Linked DNA regions of Homo sapiens. The protein of the gene in region 2 interacts with the protein of the main gene of each other region in a pairwise test. Each region holds a gene or a part of one and is shown on either strand. Other genes may lie near its edges.

Region 1 (3,654 bases), on a different chromosome or scaffold from region 2:
ACAACAACAAAAAAACAAAAACCCAGCCATTATCTTATGACTTAAATGTTCTTTAAAAGAAAAAGATGTCCGTTTTGAAATAATGAAGCAGAGACGTTTTAAAAGTGATCTTGGGTGGAGAACGGATTGGAATAAGTTCCACATTTTACCCATAACTACTATGATAAGCATACATTTACAGTATGTATCAGCTGAAAAACAAAGATGTTTCCATTAAAAAGTAACAAATTTTCAGAATTTGATTTTTAAGCATACTGCAGATTATAGTATAGTAACCGAATTTCCTTTTTAAGTGGATTAATAGCTGTCTATAAACCTTTATCTGGAACTTAGGGGCCAGATGTGCTTTAGAATTCATATTTTTCAGGTTTTAGAAAAGAAATACGGAAGAGATGTTAAGGAAGATGGTGGAGTAGGAAGCTCCAACAATCAGTCCCTCCACCAAAGCAGCTATTGAACTAGCAGCACCTGTCAGAATCAACCACTTCGGAACTCTGGACACTAACGAAAGACTTGCAGCATCCTGGGGAGTGCTAAAGAACAAAGAGGCTGGGAAATTTGGGTGAATTTCAGCATTTGCATAGCAGCTACCATCCCCTAGATCCCATCCCGCAGCAGGCAGCCATGGGAACTACAGTTGTATGAATTTCTCCTCAAACATTAAAATAACAAATACCAAAAAACAAAGAAATACGGTGTGTATGTGACATATAATATCCCCAACAAGACCCAGAGCAACACCTGGAATAAAAAGTACTAGTATGTTCCTGCAACAGAACTTAGTACTATTCACAAGTACAATTAAAAAATATGTCTACGTAAAATTTATATAGAGAGAAATAATAAATATAACATATATAAATAGCCTCATGTAAGTTCAGTTCAAGTTTTGCTAACCAATAAAGTCAGGTAAGATCATGACCTAGGGTAGGAGACGATATGTCATACTATCGACTGCTGTAGGTGGAGTTGTGTCCTCTAAAACAATATGTTGAAGTCCCAATCCCTGTGAATAGTGCCTTTGCAGATACAATTAAGATGCCAGTTAAGATGACGTTATACTGGAGTAGGGTGGGCCCTTAAACCAATATGACCCTATCCTTAAAAGAGGCACCAAGACAAACACACACAGAGGAGAATGCCATGTGAAGACACACACAGAGGGAAGATGGCCATGTGACCACAGAGGCAGAGACTGGAGTGATGTAGCTGCAATCCAAGAAATACCAACGTGTGCCTGAAACCACCAGAAGCTGGAGGAGCCAGCATGGCCCGCCTTGCTGATGCCCGGACTTTGGACTTACAGCCTCCAGAATCACAAGAAAATACATTTCTATTGTTTAAAGCCACCCAGTTGCTGGTACTTTGTTACAGCAGCCCAGAGAAACCAATACACTAACTAGCCAAAGTACCACTTGAAGGTACCATAGCTCCAAACTGTTTTTCAAATTTTAATTTATGATCTCTCCACTAAGAAAAATTCCCCTTTGTACACATCATTGACTACCCTGGGTCATTTTATTCAGTAAAAAAAACTTATATGATACAGATTTCACCTCCTTTTCAATTATATTTGTTTGACTGATTTAAATTGTTTCAGACTGTTTATAGATGGTCTTAAAGGTATAACTGAGTCACTGCATATTTTTTCCCAACTTACAGACCCAAACGTACCTGAGTTTTTCCAAGGCACTTTCTCGTTCAATGCGAAGTTTAGCTAAAGATGCGTTCTCAGCTTTAAACTTTTCTATTTCTGTTTCCAATTCAATAATTTTCTCTCTCAAAACCTGGGATCGAGCATTGTCACCTATGAAATAGGCCATAAATACTGAACTTCAAAAAAGGCATTACTGCAGCAAAAACACTAGCTAGCTAGTAACACTAAGAGCCAAGAATATGGCAAACATCTGTGCTATTAAAATGCATTAGAAACAATGCTTCAAACATGAAAAGGAAAAAAAATTAAACCTAACTTTCCTGAGGAAATCAGTGGGAATTTATGGAAGAATTAATCTACCTCAAAAGAGTATCGACCTGACAAGGAATCAACATGATACATAAAAAGAAATCATTCAAATCAATTTTTCAAAGACGAATATATATAAATAGCTTAAGAATAAGTAATCCACAAGAGATCTGAAGAGCTAATCAACACCAAAATCAAAGTTTACCCCTACTATTAATCAAATAAATGCAAATTGTTTTCCCTTTATCAAATTTGCTATTTAAAATGTAAAATAGCCAGTGCTTCTGTCCTTCAAGCATTTTTATCAATTAGTACTTTTTTAGAAACTAAATGTGATCCACAAGGCTAAAGAAATGAGCTAAGTTATACAACTCTGTCATATTAAAACTACATAGAAAAAATGACTGGAATGAAATATCCCAAAATGGCATAGCAGTTACTTTTGGGTAGTTAAGTTGTAAATATTTTTGCTTCTATGCTTTTTAAGCTTCCAAACTTTGTACAAAAAAATTACTTTTAAAATCAGAATTTTTGAAAATTAACGTTATAATTTCTATTTTAATTTCTATTTTAAAGCACCTATGCTCTGCTAGTTTATAATATAATATAATGGAAAGGAATCTTTCAGGGTGAGTTTAAAAAGTCCGTTACATCAACAGAAATACTACACATCCGTTAAATGGAATGAGGTAGGTGTGTACATGCGTTAGAACAATCTTCAAAATTTATCATAAGCAAGGTGCAGGACAGTATACAAAAAGAGTCTTTTCATTTGTATAGAAAGGTAATTATATACAAACTGACACATATGCTTTTATATGCACGGACTCTTTAGAATACACAAACGAAATGGTAATACTGGTACCTCTAGGAAGGGGTACTTGAACCAGGTCTGGGGAAGAAAGGAAACGTAGAAGCTTTGATGTTATCTCACTTTATTAAAAACTAATTAATTTTAAAGCCTCATATAGACCCATAAAATAAATCAAATTTTTACAAATCACCCATTAATTTGACTTAATTCTATTGAGCAATAAGGAAAGTTAGGATTTTAAGCATTCTGACAGCATACTGATTAATGTTAAATTTCTAACATTCTGATACATATTTTATAATGCTCTGACTCACCAGGTGGTTGGTCTTGACTTATGTTTAACTTGAGTTCATTTCCCAAGTGTGAATCTGACTTTGGTTTTGGTTTCAAAGAAGGAAAGAATTTCATCATCAGCTCCGATGTAGGAGGACTTCTGCTCCTCCTGGACTTGCTCAAGTCTTCTCCCCTCTTGACTGGTGCAATCTTCCTTTTTATTGTTTTGTCCAGGATACCTATTTCATTATTAGGGTAGCATGTCTGCGGCGTCCCATAAGTGGATTCATTCCCAAGAACAACATCATGGTTACACAAATTCTCTTCAAGGTCAGTCCAAGTTCTTTCATCATCAAAGTCCATTTTACTCAGACTTAGGGATGAGGATCTCGAGGGCTCAGACACTTTATGTTTTATGCTTTCCATGATAGACTCATCGCTACTGTAATCTTTATCAGACAAATCCAGATCAACATCTCTCCTTTTATCTTCTTGGGTCCTGGTGTCCTTAAAAGGCCCCTTATCATCACAGACTTGTGGGCTATCCTCTCTGCTGCTGATGCCCCTCTCTCTATCCTCAGTCGATGGTTTTATGGTAACA
Region 2 (3,654 bases):
GGGGCAAAGGAGAGAGCTGCTGGAGCCACCTGTGCCCAGCCAGGAAGGGCAGGTCTGGCACTCTGTGTTTGTGGTGGGGGAGGAAGGCAAGGAGCAGGACCTCTCCCACACCACAGTTGTAAGAGACCCCACAGCCTGTGCATAGTGAACGGAGAGTTGGAGGGGAGGGGACGTGGGGCCGTATGCCTCAGGAAAGGGAAAGAGAGCATGAGGCCAAGGTGAGACGCTGTGTTGGGCGGCGACTGGGCTGCTGGGAATGTGGCATGACGGGGGTGGGGGTCCCAGCCCGTAGAGGTCTGGGGCCTTGGGAGTGTGGGATGGCAGCCAAGCATGACCTGGTTTGTGGCAGGAGCAAATCGTTCCTCTGGCCTGGTCCCTGGTGGCAGGGCTGGTGGAGATTGGTGGGGGGAGGAGTGGGGCGTGAGTACTATTTCCCTTCCCTGCTTCTGTTTTCTTTTTTATAAATCTAGAAACCTTTCAGGGAGGAGTTTTTCCTGAGTGACGTTGCATGGACGAGTCCAAGAGGCTCTGGTGTTGGGGGTGGGGGGTAGACAAAAGGGGTGGGGCTACCTCATCTAGGGTGGGGAAGAGCTTGAGTTGGGGTTGGGGCCAGGCTCTCCTGCTGCACAGCTCACCTGGCTCCTTTCCACAGTGTGGACGAATGTGGAACCTCGCTCTGTGGCTGTGTTCCCTTGGCACTCCTTAGTCCCCTTCCTGGCACCCAGCCAGCCTGACCCCTCCGTGCAGCCGAGCGAGGCCCAGCAACCTGCCAGCCACCCAGTGGCCTCCAACCAGAGCAAAGGTGAGGGCTGGTGGGGACTGGGGGGAGGCAAGGGTGTGGGGTCCAGGTGGCCTAGGAGCCCTCTGATCTACCTCTGTGTCCCCAGAACCTGCTGAGTCGGCAGCTGTTGCTCATGAACGGCCACCAGGTGGGACAGGGAGTGCTGACCCTGAGCGGCCCCCTGGAGCCACATGCCCTGAGAGCCCAGGACCCGGACCCCCACACCCTTTGGGGGTGGTGGAATCTGGTAAGGGTCCGCCTCCCACCACGGAGGAGGAGGCCTCCGGCCCCCCAGGAGAGCCCCGGCTGGACAGTGAGACAGAGAGTGACCATGATGATGCGTGAGTTCCCTGAGGCCTGGGACTTGGGGGTGGGATGGCCAGAGACATGGCCCTCACTGTCCCTGCTGCCCCGCCGCAGCTTCCTCTCCATCATGTCTCCTGAGATCCAGTTGCCTCTACCGCCCGGAAAACGTCGGACCCAGTCCCTCAGTGCCCTACCCAAGGAACGGGACTCATCTTCTGAGAAGGATGGACGCAGCCCCAACAAGGTACTTTATCCCTGCCTGTCCTGTGCTCACCCCGTGGCCACCCACACCTGTCTGCCAGGTCCTAACTGTCCCGCTCTGGGCTGTGTTTAATGCAGCGGGAGAAGGACCACATCCGGCGGCCCATGAATGCCTTCATGATCTTCAGCAAGCGGCACCGGGCCCTGGTCCACCAGCGTCATCCCAACCAGGACAACCGGACCGTCAGCAAGATCCTGGGCGAGTGGTGGTATGCCCTGGGGCCCAAGGAGAAGCAGAAGTACCACGACCTGGCCTTCCAGGTAACGCTGTTGCCTCTTGGCTCCTCCCAGCTTCTTCTGGTGGGGTGGGTGAGTGAAGGGTTGCCCTGCCCTCTCCTGCCAGGTGAAGGAGGCCCACTTCAAGGCCCACCCAGATTGGAAGTGGTGCAACAAGGACCGAAAGAAGTCCAGCTCAGAGGCCAAGCCCACGAGCCTGGGGCTGGCAGGAGGGCACAAGGAGACGCGGGAGCGGAGCATGTCGGAGACGGGCACTGCTGCTGCCCCTGGGGGTTAGTCAGCCCCTTGGCTCTCCCACCCTGCCACCTCCCTCCCCGAGAGCCACCAGCTACCCCCTTGCTTGCTCCTCCCCTGCCCCAGCAGCTCCTCTCTGCTCTATCGCTTTAATTTGGCGACCCTTATCCGTAAAGGAACCGGCAGTTGATTCATGTGACGGAGCCAGGGAGATCCACACAGATACTAAGATTCCCAAACAGCAATCTCGTTATCAACTGTTGTTTAACGAGTGTTTACTATGTGCCTGGCACTACAGGGAATATAAGCTGTAGTCTGCAAAACCCCATTCTATTTCTAGAAGAAGAAACTGAGGTTCAGAGAGGCAAAATCACTTGCTTAAAGTCATAAACAAGCAAATGACAGAGCCAGAATGTAAACCCCAGTTCGGCGGGCCCCCAGCACCATAGTTGGGGCCACTGCAGCTCGCAAACACCCCTGATGGGCTGCTTCCACTTATTGAGGTTGTCTGGTGTGCCTGGCGGTGTTCTGGGGCACATTTTTGGAGTGAGCCTATGGGTATGGCAGTTCTGTGAGGTTAGATGGATAGTTGCTATGGATATGCACTTCTATGAGAGTGGGGACACTAGTTACTTCCTCTTTGAGATGAGGGAACCGAGGCTCAGGCCAGCGGTTGGCTAGCCAGCACCACATGAACCTCTCTCCAGGCCTCCTTACTTTCAGGAGGGCTGCCCCCCAGGGAATGGGCCTGCTGCAACCCCAGAGGGCAGGAATCAGCAGGAATGAGATGCTGGACTGGTGGTGGGTGGTGGTTTTTTTTTTTCACCAAGTGGCCCAGAAATTCCAGCCTGCTTCTGCCTAGTACCTAGAAATATCTATGGGTTGTTGGGCCAGTCTAGGTGCTGGTGACAGGCTTACTGACTGTCATAGCGCCACTCTCTACTTTACAGTGTCCTCTGAGCTCCTGTCCGTTGCAGCCCAGACACTCCTGAGCTCAGACACCAAGGCTCCGGGGAGCAGCTCCTGTGGGGCAGAACGGCTACACACAGTTGGGGGACCTGGCTCAGCCCGGCCCCGAGCTTTCTCCCACAGCGGGGTACACAGCCTGGACGGCGGAGAAGTAGACAGTCAGGCGCTACAGGAACTGACGCAGGTCTAGGGTGCAGGCCCCCTAGTGGGGGTGGGCAGGGAACCTGTCCAGGGCAGCAGCCCCGCTGAACCCTCTCTGCCACCTATCCTGCAGATGGTGTCTGGCCCTGCATCGTACTCTGGCCCAAAGCCTTCTACCCAGTATGGAGCTCCAGGACCCTTTGCAGCCCCTGGTGAGGGAGGTGCCTTGGCGGCCACTGGGCGGCCCCCGCTGCTGCCCACCCGAGCTTCTCGTTCTCAGCGTGCGGCCAGTGAGGACATGACGAGTGATGAGGAGCGCATGGTCATCTGTGAGGAGGAAGGGGATGATGATGTCATTGGTGAGCATTGCAGGGCCCAGAATCTTGCCCAGGACCCAGCAGGCCAAGGCTCAGAGGGTGGGCAGAACTTGGATCCAGGCCCCTAGGCCCCTTTGTTTTCTTTTCCACTTGGTTTATGGTTGCATGTGGCCAGTTCAGGCCCTGCCGAGTAAATCCAGCCCTGCCCTCAGGAAGCCCCCAGCCCTGCAGGAAATCTGGAGGACAGGGGGCATGACCAGATCTTCAGGTGCAGTGTTAGGGGCTCTGTCCTGCAGGCTCATAGGCTCCTGCACTGGGCAGTGGGCACTGGGCATGTGGGCACAGCCCTGGGCTGAGGAGTAGCCTTCCTGGACAGCACTCCCTGCCGGTTTGGAGCAGAGCTGAGAT
Region 3 (3,654 bases), on a different chromosome or scaffold from region 2:
TTTATATGAGTAACAATACAAAAGCTTATAAAAAGCAATATAAAAAGTTTCTAGGTTCTTCACATCCTTGTTAATACTTGATTATTTCCTTTTTTTTTTTTTTTTTAGTTACAGCCTTTCTAGTGGGAACATAATGGTATCTCAATGCAGTTTTGATTTGCTTTTTCCTAATAACTAACACTGCTGAAAAGCTTATTATTTCCACATGTAGATTCTGTACCTTTTTAAAGAGTTTTTTCTGTTTTACTTTTGGTGCTATTGTAATTTTTTTTTTATTTCAAATTTCAATTCTTCATTGCTGGCACATAGAAAGGAAACTGACTTTAGTATTTTAATCTTGTATATTGCAACCTTGCTATAATTACTTATTAGTCATAGAAGAGTTTTTTTTTTAATGTCAATTCTTTGGCATTTTCTACATGGAGAATCATGTCATCTGAGAATAAAGTTAATTGTTTCATACTCTGCAGTTTGTATGGTTTTTTTTTTTTGGTGTATTTTTTTGGAGACGGAGTCTCTTACTGTTACCCAGGCTAGAATGTGGTGGCACAATCTCACCTCACTGCAACCTTCACCTCTCAGGTTCAAATAATTCTCCTGCCTCAGCCTCCCAGGACTAGCGCACACCGCCACACCTGGCTACATTTTTTTTGTATTTTAGTAAAGACAGGGATTCACTGTGTTGCCCAGGCTGGTCTCGAACTCTTGAGCTCAGGCAATCTGCCCGCCTTGGCCTCCCAAAGTGCTAGGATTAAAGGCGTGAGCCACCGCGCCTGGCCAGCAGTTTGTATAGTTTTTATTTGTCTTTGCTTGTTTTATTACACTAGCTAGGACTTCTAGTACAATGTTCAACAGGGATGGTGAGAGGGGATATCCTTTCCTTTTTTCTGACCTTAGGGGGAAAGTACTCAGTCTCTCACTTATAAGTATGATGTTAGCTATAGGAGTCTTTTTTTTTTTTTTTTTTTTTCAGATTTGTAATGAAGTTGAGAAACTTCCTCTTTTTTTCTTTTTTTTGAGACGCAGTCTCGTTCTGTCACCCAGACTGGAGTGCAGTGGCACGATTTCGGCTCACTGCAAACTCTGCCTCCCGGGTTCAAGCGATTCTCCTGCCTCAGCTGGGACTGCAGGCCGCCCACCACCACATCCAGCTAATTTTTGTATTTTTAATAGAGACAGGGTTTTGCCATGTTGGGCAGGCTGGTTTTGAACTCCTGACCTCAGATGCACCCGGCCGAGAAACTTCCTCTTTATTCCTAGTTTGCTGAGACTTTTTATCATGAATGGTGTGAATTTTGTCGAATAGCTTTTCTGCCTCAGTTGATATAATCATATGATTTTTCTTCTTTATTGATATGGGAGATTACATTAATAATTTTCAAAGATTGAACCAGCTTGCATACCTTGAATAAATCCCACTTACTTGTGGTGCACAATTTTTATATATATTTTGTTGGATTTGTTTTACTAACGTACTGTTGAGAATTTTTGCATCTGTGTTCATGAGAGATACTGGTTTCTGGTTTTCCTTTCTCATAATGTCTTTACTTGGCTCTGGATTAGGGTAATGCTGACCTCATAGAATGTGTTACAAAATAGTCCATCTCCTTTCATTTTCTGAAACAAATTTGGGGAGAATTTTAATAATTTCCTTCTCCAACTTTTGGTAGAATTCATCAGTTTACCAATAAAACCCACTAAGCCTATTTTTAAAGTGTTGCTTAATATTTTGGAGTATTACAGCTGTCTGTTACTGATTACTAGTTAAATTCTATTGTTGCGTAAGAAAACATTTTGTATGAGTTCAATTGTTTACATTTGTTAACGTGTATTTTGTGGTATAGAATGTGTTATAGCTTGGTTAATTTTCAATGTGAGCTTGAGAAGAATAGATATTTGCCTTTAGATGGAATATTCTATGAATGCCATTTAAATCAGTTGCTATATAGTGTGCTGTTCAGGTACAACTGTAGCGGTAATCATTTCCTGTGGCTGCTGTAAGAAATTGTCACAAACTTTATAACTTAAAACCTCATACAAAAAAATTGTCTCATAGTTCTGAAAGCTCAGAGCCCAAAATCAATGTACCAGCAACCACCAGAAGCTAATAGGGAAGCGTGGAACAGATTACAGCAGGGACCAACATTACCAATATCCTGATTTTGAACCTAGCCTCAAGAACTGTGAGAGACTAAATCTCGGTTGTTTAAAAACCATACAGTTTGTGCTGCTACGTTGTTAGAGCAACCCCAGAAAATTAAAACGCCTACCATTTTTCACTGTTTTCTATTGACCGTACTTGCTCTTTGCTTTTTTTTCCCTTCCTCTCTTTTTCTGCCCTCTTTTAACTATTTTGTATTATTCAATTGATTATTTTATATTATTCAATTTTCTTTCCTCTCTTAGCTTATTAGTTATATATTACTAATATACATCACAAATATAGCTATATTAGTTATATATAATATACATAACTAATATATATTAGTTATATATTACATATACATAACGAATATATATTAGTTATATATTACATATACATAACTAATATATATTAGTTATATATTATATATACATAACTAGTATACATAACTAATATATATTATATTATATATAGTTATATATAATATATAACTAATATGCCTAAAGGTATATATATAAATATAACTAATATGCCTAATAATATAACTAATATAACTAATAATAATATAACTAATATGCCTAAAGGTATATATATAAATATAAAACAAACATACAAATATATTTGAAATATAAAAATATTTTAAAAATATAAACTTTTTATAAATATATAAAAATATATTTTAAAAATATAAATAACACTATACATATATATATAAAGGCTTAGTGGTTTCCCTGGAGTTTGCAATATGCATTTACAACTAATCTAAGTCTAATTACAAATAACACTATACCCCTTCACATGTAGTGCAGGTACCTTAGAGCAGAGTATCCTCAATCTTGAGTAACGTTGCTGTCATTCATTTCACTTATCCATAAGCTGTAATCGCCCACTACATTGTTGATATTATTACTTTAAGCCATTATCTTATATATTAGTTGAGAATCAGAAAAACAAAATATTTTATTTACCTTTACTTCTTTTTCAGTGCTCTTTCTCTCTTTGTGAAGATCTGAATTTCAGACATATACTCTTCTTCCCCCTGAATAATGTCTTTTAACGTTTATGGCAAAGTATTTCCTTCATTATTGCGGGACAAAATTTCTGAATATAAAATTCTTGAGTCATGGGTGTTATTCTTTCAAAACTTTAATATTTATTCCACATGCTGAACTTTTACTAGTTTTAGTAGTTGTGTGTTTGTGTGTGTATATTCTTTGAGATCATTTACATACTGAATCATGCTGTCTGTAAATAAATATAGTTAATTTTAAAACTGCAACTTTTATTTTAGATACAGGGAGTATATGTGCAGGTTTGTTACATGGGAATATTGGGTGATGCTGAGGTTTGGGATACAGATCCCATCACCCAGGTAATGAGCATATTACCCAATCAGTAGTTTTTCAACTCACACACCCTCCTCCCTCCCCTAGTGTAGTCTGTAGTGTCTATTATTTCCATATTTATGTCCACGTATGCTCAATAGTTAGCTTCCACTTATAAGTGAGAAC

The links.
Region 1: the proteins of CIC (region 2) and CPAP interact in a two-hybrid assay, tested with the Homo sapiens proteins (one large-scale study listed by BioGRID and IntAct).
Region 3: the proteins of CIC (region 2) and TRIM22 interact in a two-hybrid assay, tested with the Homo sapiens proteins (one large-scale study listed by BioGRID and IntAct).

The regions. Positions count from the first base shown.
Region 1 is NC_000013.11:24,902,252-24,905,905, forward strand, and holds part of CPAP (centrosomal P4.1-associated protein), read right to left. Parts: coding exon 3,095-3,654; intron 1,808-3,094; coding exon 1,675-1,807; intron 1-1,674. UniProt on the Homo sapiens protein: Plays an important role in cell division and centrosome function by participating in centriole duplication. Inhibits microtubule nucleation from the centrosome. Involved in the regulation of slow processive growth of centriolar microtubules.
Region 2 is NC_000019.10:42,286,119-42,289,772, forward strand, and holds part of CIC (protein capicua homolog), read left to right. Parts: exon of another isoform or gene 1-218; intron 219-652; coding exon 653-802; intron 803-887; coding exon 888-1,122; intron 1,123-1,201; coding exon 1,202-1,331; intron 1,332-1,426; coding exon 1,427-1,609; intron 1,610-1,691; coding exon 1,692-1,857; intron 1,858-2,769; coding exon 2,770-2,972; intron 2,973-3,062; coding exon 3,063-3,288; intron 3,289-3,654. UniProt on the Homo sapiens protein: Transcriptional repressor which plays a role in development of the central nervous system (CNS). In concert with ATXN1 and ATXN1L, involved in brain development.
Region 3 is NC_000011.10:5,699,636-5,703,289, forward strand, and holds part of TRIM22 (E3 ubiquitin-protein ligase TRIM22), read left to right. Parts: intron 1-3,654. UniProt on the Homo sapiens protein: Interferon-induced E3 ubiquitin ligase that plays important roles in innate and adaptive immunity.